Linked DNA regions of Homo sapiens: region 1 is linked to region 2. The links come from fine-mapping of genetic effects on gene expression. A gene starts in region 2. The other region holds a variant in brackets. All regions are shown on one strand. Distances are between the middles of the regions.

Region 1 (5,200 bases), 35 kb after region 2:
TTCAAGGTATATCTGTATTTCTGTCTTCCAAGGCTATAAGGTAATGTGCGCTCTGCTTGGGATGGAGACTGTTTTCTAAGGGTGTTTGATTTAATCTTGTTAATATCATGTTAATAACTTAAAACTTTGTTAATGATTACTTCCCTTGTCAGTCAGTCATCCTGGAAAAGATAGTCTGGAATAAAACCCAGTCATCTATCTGGGCTCTAAAGAAGTGAAGTGAAGTGAGAGACCCCTGGAATTGTCTCCTAACAGTGTGACCTTTCTGAGGTGTCTCAGTTGAATTCCTCACATGTCCATGGTTTTATCTGCTTGTTCTGTCTCTTGGTTCTATGTGACCACCAGAATCTCCATTCAGCTATTCACTGCCAGACATTGTCAAGAGTGTCACCCTGCACATATGCAACCTAGTGTTTGGCCAGAGACTTAATATGACCCTTATACAGATTTCTGATGCTCCTTGTATTTGATATTATCTTCCACAAATTTTGCTTCATCTCCAGACTTTATTCTCTTTTTCCGCTGCTCAGAAAGACTGTAGTTTTTTGTGTGCTACAGTTCTGAAAGTGCCTTCAGACAGAAAGCCAGGGAGATTGTAGTGCTTTTTTTCCCAGAGACCACAGTCTTGCTTTTCCTGTTGCTCAACTTTTAAAAATATTTGTTTCAAATATTTTGTACAGTTTTACTTTATTTTACATTGTTTATAGTGGGCCAGCTGGTTTGTGCCTGTTACTGCCTCATGACCAAAAGTGAAGTCTCCTATCACTTTAATTTGCATTATTTATGAATATACAGTATTATGCCAGCTAGACTGCAAGATTGGTAAAGTCAGAGATGTTATCTTTTCTTCTTTTAAAAATTATTTAGAGTATTATATAAGTGGGTACTCAGTAAATGTGTCTTGTTCCACAAAGCACACAGTAGAAATATGAGACTAAAGTATAAAAATTCTGTCCCTTGATATTATTGTTATGGTAATGATGAGAATTAGGATGTTATATGACAGATTAGTTTGTGGTTATTTACCTCTAGGTAAACATATGCCTACAGTTGATAACATAAAGCATTTTATGAACTGAGTTTTTGAAAGAAAAAATTACTAAAGAAATTAGATTGCTATGTTAGATGGTATCGACCAAGACTTGAAATAGTGCCATTGTATTATATTTAACATTTCTCCTTGTAATGTAAATTTGTGTACTAATTTACGGATTGAAAGGGATTTTACATATATTATTTTAAATTAATTTTGATTTTCTCAGCAACTCTCTATGTTAGGTTCAGTAGCTATCCTCATTTTATTGAGCAAATTAAAGCTCAGTGAAGTTCTTCCATACTTAAGATTCCAAAGTTATAAAGTGGAAGAGCTGAGACTGCAAATCGAATCTCTAAATGAAGTTTAATGTTCTTTCTGCCTTTCTGCATACCATAGGTGTGGGTTGCCACGTTTATTTTAGTTCTTTTTTTTCTTTTTGAGTGTATGTAGTTTATGCCCATTTTATTCATTCTGTGTATAGGATTATGAAACTGAAATTTTAAATTCTTTACCTGGTGAGATTGTATAGATACCAATGTTTTAAGTTTTGTGCCTGTTAAATATTTGAAACTACTTTTAGAAGTTTTATTAAATAGTAAATCTTTGGTAATGGCATAAAAGGTATGTTTTTGTGTTACTTTATAATTACTTTAAATTGTCAATTTGATAATTAGGTTCAAACGATTGTGCAGAAATGTGTTAAAGATTGTGTATTGACATTCTCACATTAGGCTTGTTCTACTTTGAAGATTAATATTCTAACATTAGAATTTTAAAAGTATATTTGTAGTTTAAAACTGCTTTAATGATTATTTGCTCTATAAATATGCATAAATAAGGATGGCATCATTGTAATCGCTTTAAACCCTTTTTTGGGTAATACATCCTTAGTTGGGTTGAGTTGGAAGTGATGATCTTTGGAATATGCACATGAATTAATTGGTTACTCTATCTTGGGATATGTCAGAAGTACTACTGCTTCAGTGAGAGGACTCTGGCAGGAGATGTTATTTTTTACCAGCCAGCGGTGTTTATCTTGATTTGAAGGAAGCAAGCTTTATCAACATAGAGGATAATGATTTACTTGTCTT[A/G]TCCTTTCTCTTTGTAGCCTAGAGAAATTCCAGAAAATAGTCTTTTTTTCTTTTTTAGGAAGAAAATATAGTCTTCATATGAAAAGCTTTGTGTGCTTTTCTGATCAAAATACAGAAGGATTTTTATCTTTTGATCTACTAAATTTACTTATCAACATAGGTGTTAGCTTTGCTTTTCACTCCTTCCTTCAAAATTGTAGGACAGAAATTTGGAAGTCAGGAAAGCAAGTGAATGTGACAAATGCTTATTTATCTTGCAAAAGTGCTTCATAAGTATAGTCTTTTCTTCAGCTTGTCCTTCATACCATTGATAAACTGGACTTTAAAGAACTTATTAATGAAGGTGGCAATTTAGTTCTGCCTGAACCAACAACTAGTTATATGATCTTGCATAAATCATTTTTCCTTTCTTGACTCAAGTTCCTTCAGGTAAACAAAAGCTATAGACTATCCAAAAGCCCCTTGTAATTTAAACATTCTGTCATTTTAATTGTATTATTGTTTAGTTCTTCAACTACATTATCAACTCACTGAAGCAAGGATTTCATCTTCCTTTTGATAGTTTTCAAAATATATTGTGTAGCATATTCGATACAGTAATAGAAATTTGTCTACAACCTCAATTCTCAAACCTTGACTTTCTGAGACTCAGTCTTCCCCATATAGGGATCTCTTGCTCATAATTCCTTTTTTATTCATCCCTCTGCCTTTTCAAATCATTCAAATAAAAGACTTGCCAGGGACCCACAAGGCTCCATATAACTGGCTCAAATCCCCCTTGTTTACATTTCTAACCTCATCCTTTCCCACTTTTCTCCCTTGCTCTCTTAACTGCAGCCACACTGGCTTCTTGCTATCCCTGGAACAACATCAAGCATGCTCCTTCAAGGGTTTGCATTTTTTGTTTACTTCTAATACACTTTCCCAAGATATCTGCACAAGTAATTTCTTTACCTTTTTCAAGTTTTTGCTCATTGTCAGTGAGTCTCACTTTAACCAACTTAACAGAATTAAAATCGCACTCTCCTTCCTTTTGCGCTCATAATTAGGTTATATGCCTGCCCAGCCCCAAATCAAACACAAGTTCAGGGCTGTAGTGATTGTCTTTGCTGATGCAAAATTATATTTGATAGTGCAAAATTTTCATAGGGTAACTGAAAGGAACTGTTAAGAATATCTTAGCACATTACATATTCTAATTTAGAGGTAAAGGTCTGATTTCTTAGAAATTGGTGGAAGCATTTTAAGACTCAATTATGTTTTATTAAGATGAAATCATTTGCTTATTTTCCATCTGTATATCTTCTTTGGTGAAATGTCTGTTCAGCTCTTTCTCTTATATTTTCTTTATTGGGTTGGTTTCTTATTACTGAGTTTTGAAAGATTTTAATATATCCAGGATACAATGACTTTGTTGGATTTGCATTTTTTTCTCCCATCTGTATTTTGTCTTTTCATGCTTTTAACTAACATTGTCTTTCACAGAGAATAGTCCTTTCTTTTGATCAGTTTATCAGTTTTGTTTTTATTTTCATTTAGAGTTCATTTAGATTTTCATTTCCTTTTGATTTCTTCTTTGACCGTTGGGTTATTTAGAAGTATGTTATTTAAGTTACAAATATTTGGGGATTTTCCTGTGATGTTTCTGTTATATTTTGATAATGTAATTCCAGAGAATATCATGGTATGGCTTGAATCCTTTTAAATCAGTTAGGACTTGCTTTATGGTGCATTATATGATTTCTTCTCGTATATGTCCCATATGCACTTAAGGTTTTGTTTTAGATTACAGTTAAGTTATTTGGAAACAGTTTGAACATTTGAGGCTTGCTTTTAAGCTTTGGTAGGTGAAACCAGAGTCATCTTCAGTCCAGTGCTGATTTTGTCCCACTGCTAAGGTGTTACCCTCTGAGTACTGTACAGGATACTCTTGTTGATTATGAGGTTTTCCCACTCTGGGTGGTGTGAATGTCAGCTGATCCTGGGATTTCCCCCCCATTTCTTTTGGGTGATTCTTTCCTCAGTGTCTGGTAGTTTCCTCATATGTGTGCACTGATCATCAGCACTAAAGTCTTGGGTGGGTTGGTGGTGAACCTTCTGCAGCTCTCCAGAGCTCTATTCCTGTGCAGCTTCGTCTCTGTTCTCTTTGTGGAGTCTAGATGCTTTGGCCTTCCAACCTCATCTCAGGAAGACCACTGGGCTCTGCCTGGGTTTCTCCCACCTTGTGCCACATCCTGGAAACTCCAGATATTAAGACCAATTGTAAGGCTTACCTTGTTTGTTTTATCTCTGTCAGGGATCACTGTCCTGCATTTACTAATGTCTGAAAATTGTTTAATGTATTTTTTTAGATTTTTAGTTGTTAGAGAGAGAGCAAATACAGTTTGTACTTTCTCTTGGCTGGAAGCAGATGTCCTGTTTATGGATGTAAAAGTGCTGCTTTAACATTCTGCATCTATGGTTAGAAGAAAAGCTATGGTAACTAAGTACATGGGTAAATAATGTTTGGGAATATAGTTACCATGGAAGTTCTGAGGATCTTCTGTCATCTTTCTGCCAAAAAGTGATTCTGCATCAGCATCTTCCATGTTGTGTTTCACAGTTAATAACCCAAGTCTTCTATGAGAAAGAAACTGGCCAGATTAGGTCATGTGTTTGACTTATCAGCTCTGGCCTGAGGTCACATTCACCAATTGTGGATGCAACTACTGAAAACCCACCCTGGGTATAAGATGTAGTTCCCAGAAACGAGGGAATTGTTGTGACCTGGCTGTCATTCTCTATGTGGATTTAATGTTGATATTTTTTGGCTTTGAAAGGAAAATACTTCTATGTCTAAATGAGAAAAATAGCACCTTAAATTCAAAATTCAGCATTGGTTCAAAATCATTTGTCATGAAAGCTTCTTTTCCAGTTATAATATTAGATACTCCCCTTTGTCCTGTTATATAACAGAGGGTACTCATGCATGCTAATTCATACTGGATCAGTGACAGAGAGGAGAAGAAATGTAATAAACAGGTGTCAGAGAAATCTGTGTAAATACAGTTGAAGGGGAAAGTAAATAGGGACA
Region 2 (5,200 bases):
GGTTTGATGTAAGAGCTAAAGATGATCAGACTAGATTAAAAATCAAGACTAAAAATTTTAGATAAATTTGAAACATGATGGTTTAGAAAGTTTGAATGTAAAAGGATGAAAAGAGATATCCTAACATCAGACAAATACTATTCAGAAGAAAACTGTTTAGAATCTAAGGCAAAAGTACGATTGGAGGTAAAGAAAGTAACAACATAATGATGAATGGTTGTATTTATTAGGTAGATATAGAAATTATAAACTGATGTGTATATTATTACACAGCCCCAAACTGTGTAAGGTAGAACCTGAAAGAACTATAGGCTGAAATAGAAAAATCTACCATCATGTTGGGATATTTAAACTCATCTCTCCCATTAATTGAATTATGTCAAGCAGATGCAAATTCAGTAATAGAAGATGTCAACAACACAATCATCGTATTTGATCATGGACATATATTTAGAACACTGTACCCCAAAGCTGCAGAATATATATTCTTTACAAACCACATACAACATTTAAGTCTTGAAACATTTAAAAAATTAACTAAATTAATTAATTAATAAGAAATTAATTAATAAATAAAGACCATGTTCTTTGACAACAATACAGACTATGTTCTTTGACTGGTATGGTCCTGAAAACTGTTAATATTAATTGTCGAGTAGGAAATATCATTGCTGAAATATGATCTTGGGAAGATTTAAGACTAATTTGAAGGTTTGCCCTTTGTACACTTCTCTATCAGTCATATGGGAAGTTCTATATGAAATGAGTATTACTAAAGTTATACCATCGATTTCATTAAAGCTATTACCAAGGTAAGTGTATGATATTTGTTTTCTAATTTTTTAACACCTCATGCATGTAGATCATGTACACCTATGTTCCTATCCCTTTTATTTCAGTAATAACAGAACAGATAAATCTCTTCATTATGGTCAGCCTAAAAGCTCACTTAAAAAGATTTGCTTTGGGATGCGAATGTGTAGTATTTCCCTCGATGTACTTAACATAAATGGAATGAAGAACAATTTTATACTGTTCAAGGGTATGACTGTCATTTAAAATAAAATCCCAACAATGGATGAGGAAAACAATTGTATTATTATCTCCTCACACCAAATTAAAAAGTCCTCAATATGGTCACCCCAAGTAGGGTTCCTTTCTTTGGAAATAATTAATTATAATGAAAGGAGAAGTTTGAGAAATTCAGTAACAGTTGGGGCAGAAGTGGCTTTTAGCTTACGAATTTTTTTTTTCAAGGCTTTGGAGTATGGTCACTTATGCAGAAAAATCTTTATTTGGGAAAAGAAAACTTATGTAGTATAGTTTGCCTAATTGTGAAACTGAAATTCACAGAATAATTTCTCAAAAGATAATACAAATTTGTAGCACCTGTTTTACTTGAACATCACACTGCTCATGTGATGTACAAGTAATAATTCCCATTTTACAAATGTAGGAACCGAGAAACTGAAGTGTCTCACCCCGAGTCAAGCTATGACAACACTTTATGATAAACACATTTTTTTTTTGTTTGTTTGTTTCCCAGTTATGGCCCGTCCTCATTTTTTACTAACAGGCCCATGGCTATACAATATTTCTGATCCTGTTGACCAAGTAGTACCCAATTTTGGCAAGAAAGTTTAAGGTTATATAACTGAGTGCAACTTCAGGTTCTCTGACTCTTGAGTTTTTTAATTCTTAAGACTCCTTTTCTGACTTTTATGTCTTATGACTCACACTACATTCATACCACATTTGGTTTCCTCTCATCATCTTAACTTCTGCATGAATAAAGTCTGAAGTAACCACCTTTTGGAAGAAACACTGTGGCTATGTGTCAAGGGTGGCAGTGTTAGCTGGGAGAAGGCCTTTCCCAGAAGATCTCTGTGTAAGAGCCTGGCCTTCCACAGTCATTTGAATGTCCATCATAAGACTTTTCTACCTGTCTTCTCAGTAGATCCTAAATATGAGACAGCAGAGGAGGGAGACAGGCAATATGAGGTAGAAGTAAATAATCAGCATCAGATAGACCTGGTGTGAACTCCAGCTTTGCCATTACTCCCTGGTTTCTTCATCTGTAAAATGCTGATGAAAGTATCTATCACACACCTATGACAAGTACTGGGTGAGAGTGCACATAACCTGCTTCACATGTGCTTTAGGGCTGTGTAAATCAGTCCCTCCCACGCTTATTCAGTGGTGCCCTCTCTGAACTCGCCTAAACTGCCAGACTATGAGGCCTGCGACTATGTACATGTGTTCAAAAGTTAGTCCTTGGTTATCACTGCAGTCTGTGGTATAGGAATGTCTGCCTCCCACATGCGCAGACAAGTGGGGCACTACCATTTGGCTACTTGACAGGGCTATTTAGCAGGTGCACATGTCTGAACATTCCTGAATCAGGAGGGGGTAGCTCTGGATTTCAGAGAGCTGTAAGCAGGCCACAGCTGGAGTGACGCAAGAGCCAGGGGCATCAACTTGAGCTCTGAATTTGTAGTATGAAATGAAAGGAACCCAAGTCCGTGTGTATGTGTGTGGAAAACACTGCAGGTCGAGGTACTTTTCCAGGTACTTCGCCCTTTGTGGGGTTGCAGCCCCGACGCCCTGGAATCTGGACTGGACCCAGAAAGGAAGCCGGTTTGGTTCATGCTGAGGACACAGGGGGCACCTTGCCTTTCTGGCTAGGTGGCAAAGCGGTACGTGGGCCATCCCAGCAGGCACTAGCGCTCCCCCTGCACCCTCTGGCCGCCCGGGCGCGGGGACCTGGCCCCCGCCTCCTCCACAGTCTCCGACTTGCGAGCCGCACGGCCCAGGTGAAGCCGCTGGGCGCGTCCCCGCGCGCCCCTTCCCCCTCCCGGCGACTTCCTGATTTGCAAGAAGGTGCAGGAGCCGCAGCGGGCGGCCCCGGTCGCAGGAACTGAGAGGCCTCAGCTTTGGTGGCGGCTACCGGCGGAGACGGGGGCGGCGGCCACGCCACCGCTGCTGTCACAGAAAGGCTCTGGTGGGTGGGGTGGGAGGCGGGGAAGTGCCGGGGGCGCAGCCGACATGGGCCCGCCGCCACGGCTGCTGTGAGCAGCCTCTTTCCCTGTGTGGCCGCCGGCGTGGGCGGGGACGGCGCGACCCTCGCGCGGCCGGGCTGCGGGCTTCCAGGCCAGCGCGCGGGGGCCGGACGGACAGCCCCACACCGACATGTAACCATGGACTGCAGGACCAAGTGAGTGGGGGGGCCCGGGCGCGTCGGGGGCGGGCGTCCCTCGGCGGCCCCTCCCAGGCCAGCTCGGCTCCTCCGCGCCTCCGCGCTCAACCGGCTCCCCGGGCGGCCGAGGTTGGCCGGGCGGGCTGGGGGTGCGGTCCGGCCCCCAAGCCTCTGGCCGGCCGGCGGGACGGCGCTAGGCCGCAAAGCCTGCCCGCCCTGCGTCCCCGGCCCTCCGTGGTTGGCGCGGCTCCTCCCGGAGAGGCCACTAGCGCCTTGTCGACGCCCGCCTTTCGGGGGACAGGGGAGGCCGGGCGGCCCCTGACACCGCCGCTGAGGGGTTCTCGTGCTTCCCCCGAGTGTGTCAGATGTGACTCTCCTGGGGCTGCCTGTGTGCGTGTGGTGTCCGGGAGGGAGTCAGCGTTGAGGTTAAGAGGTTATTATTCCGAGTGCTCTCTGAGCATTAAATATAACCGGTGTTTTCTTAAGTCCGTTTGTTACTTTTGTCTTGGATGTTTTCTTATGATTCTGCTTATAAAATTAGATTGGTCTCTGGTGTTTCTTTATGCAGCAACTGTAGATGCATGGTTCTTGCAAAACGGTATCCAATTAGAGGGTACTTTTATGTGTGTGCTAAAGTATTTATCAACGACTACTTTGCTCAGGAGATTAGGTAAAAAGCAATTTTAATAACGGTGGTGATTTTGTTTCTAGGTATCTTAGAGGCATGAGTTTTATATTTTTCTTCTGAAACTTAACTTTGGAAAGAATTCCTTTTTACTTCGCTTACCCACCCTTTACTATCTCCTTCTCAAAAAGTTTAAAATAATGCCATGTATATTTGTATTATTGTGAAAGGCCGTTTGAATTTCACAGAAGTAAAACTGAGTCAATATTTAACTTTTACACCTAAGAGAAATTCTAAAGAATATTAGGGAAAGAGGGAAATTATGTAATAGAATTATTTTCTTCAGTGTGTTTGACATCATGGTGGGCAGGGTAAGTGAGTAAAAATAGTATGCTTCTTGACATTAATTGTTTTAAGAGGGAGGAAGTCATCTGAGCCCAGATTATTCCCATTGAAACAAGTTAATAGCGGAAAGGCTAAAAAAATGTATATTTGCATGTTAATTTATATGTCTTGTCACTTCCTATGTTTCCAGATTCATATCTTATAAGAAAAGCTTCCAAAAAAAGAAATGCTTTTTTTTAAAGTCAGAGCTGGCATTCGTTTCTTGAAGGAAGTACATATTAAATACAGCCAATGTACAAAGGCACTAAGGTCTTGTTAGCAGGAATAACTGAGATATTAACACATTGGCCGTTGTGGTAACAGACTTAATCTTTTACCTTATGATGGAACGAGAGATTTAAACAGCAATGTTATGAAGAAAAAGTGTCTCAGTATATTTCAGTTCACTTTTTGAAATTTAACCAATGTTGCTTTGAAATTTTGCAAATATGGCAAGTTAGTAAAAAAGTCAATAACTTCTGAATTAAGCAAAGTAAACTTACAGTTTCTAGTGGGAAAATCTAACATGGAAGCAGATGGCTGGTTTCTCCAAAGATAATGGATAAAAAGAAGGCTTTTTATGTTGCTAGCCTTAGAGCTATGAATAGTTTGCTACTTTAAATATGCATAAGTACAGTAAATACATTTTAAGAAAAGTATATGCAACGTATCACATTCATGGAGCATTATCAATGTTTTATGGTGATCTAGAACTTGGCAGGTGGAACCATGTATTCATCATTTACACTTATATTGCAAGTCCTTTGGAGACAGCCTGAGAACCTGTGTCAAACTCTGTTGGCAGGGTATAATGACACTTAGGGACACTCTGGCTTTTAAATTTGATCCAATAAGATAAAACCAATACTTTGCATTTTTGTAGCACTTAGTACTTAATGAAGTACTTGCACATATGTTATTTGATTTATAATCCTCACTATTATTCTGTGAAGTGGACAAGGCACCTCATAGGTAAGGGAGAACAGTCTCAGCGT

Which allele goes with the higher level. Alleles are on the strand shown, and positions count from the first base shown. SD is a standard deviation of normalised expression in the study named.
As copies of G replace A in region 1, the expression in cerebellar hemisphere of the gene that starts at base 2,873 in region 2 goes up (small effect, 0.27 SD a copy in GTEx).

What was found. PIP is the estimated chance that this variant, and not a neighbour inherited with it, causes the effect. A credible set is the group of variants that fine-mapping cannot tell apart.
Region 1: its variant is the best candidate, but not a certain one, in a credible set for the expression of DENND1B in cerebellar hemisphere (GTEx, PIP 0.54).

Annotation. Positions count from the first base shown.
Region 1 is chr1:197,738,044-197,743,243 of GRCh38, reverse strand. All of the region lies in intron 2 of DENND1B (DENN domain containing 1B), which reads left to right. Among named protein-coding and RNA genes, the nearest start is that of DENND1B, 35 kb to the left of the region's middle. The variant A/G (reference allele first, on the strand shown) is at 2,128.
Region 2 is chr1:197,773,153-197,778,352 of GRCh38, reverse strand. It overlaps DENND1B (DENN domain containing 1B), which reads left to right and starts at 2,873. Exons shown (of 23, transcript NM_001195215.2): 1 at 2,873-3,214. The coding sequence starts at 3,198. RefSeq lists an enhancer at 1,656-1,705 and silencers at 2,080-2,374, 2,666-2,865, 3,016-3,525.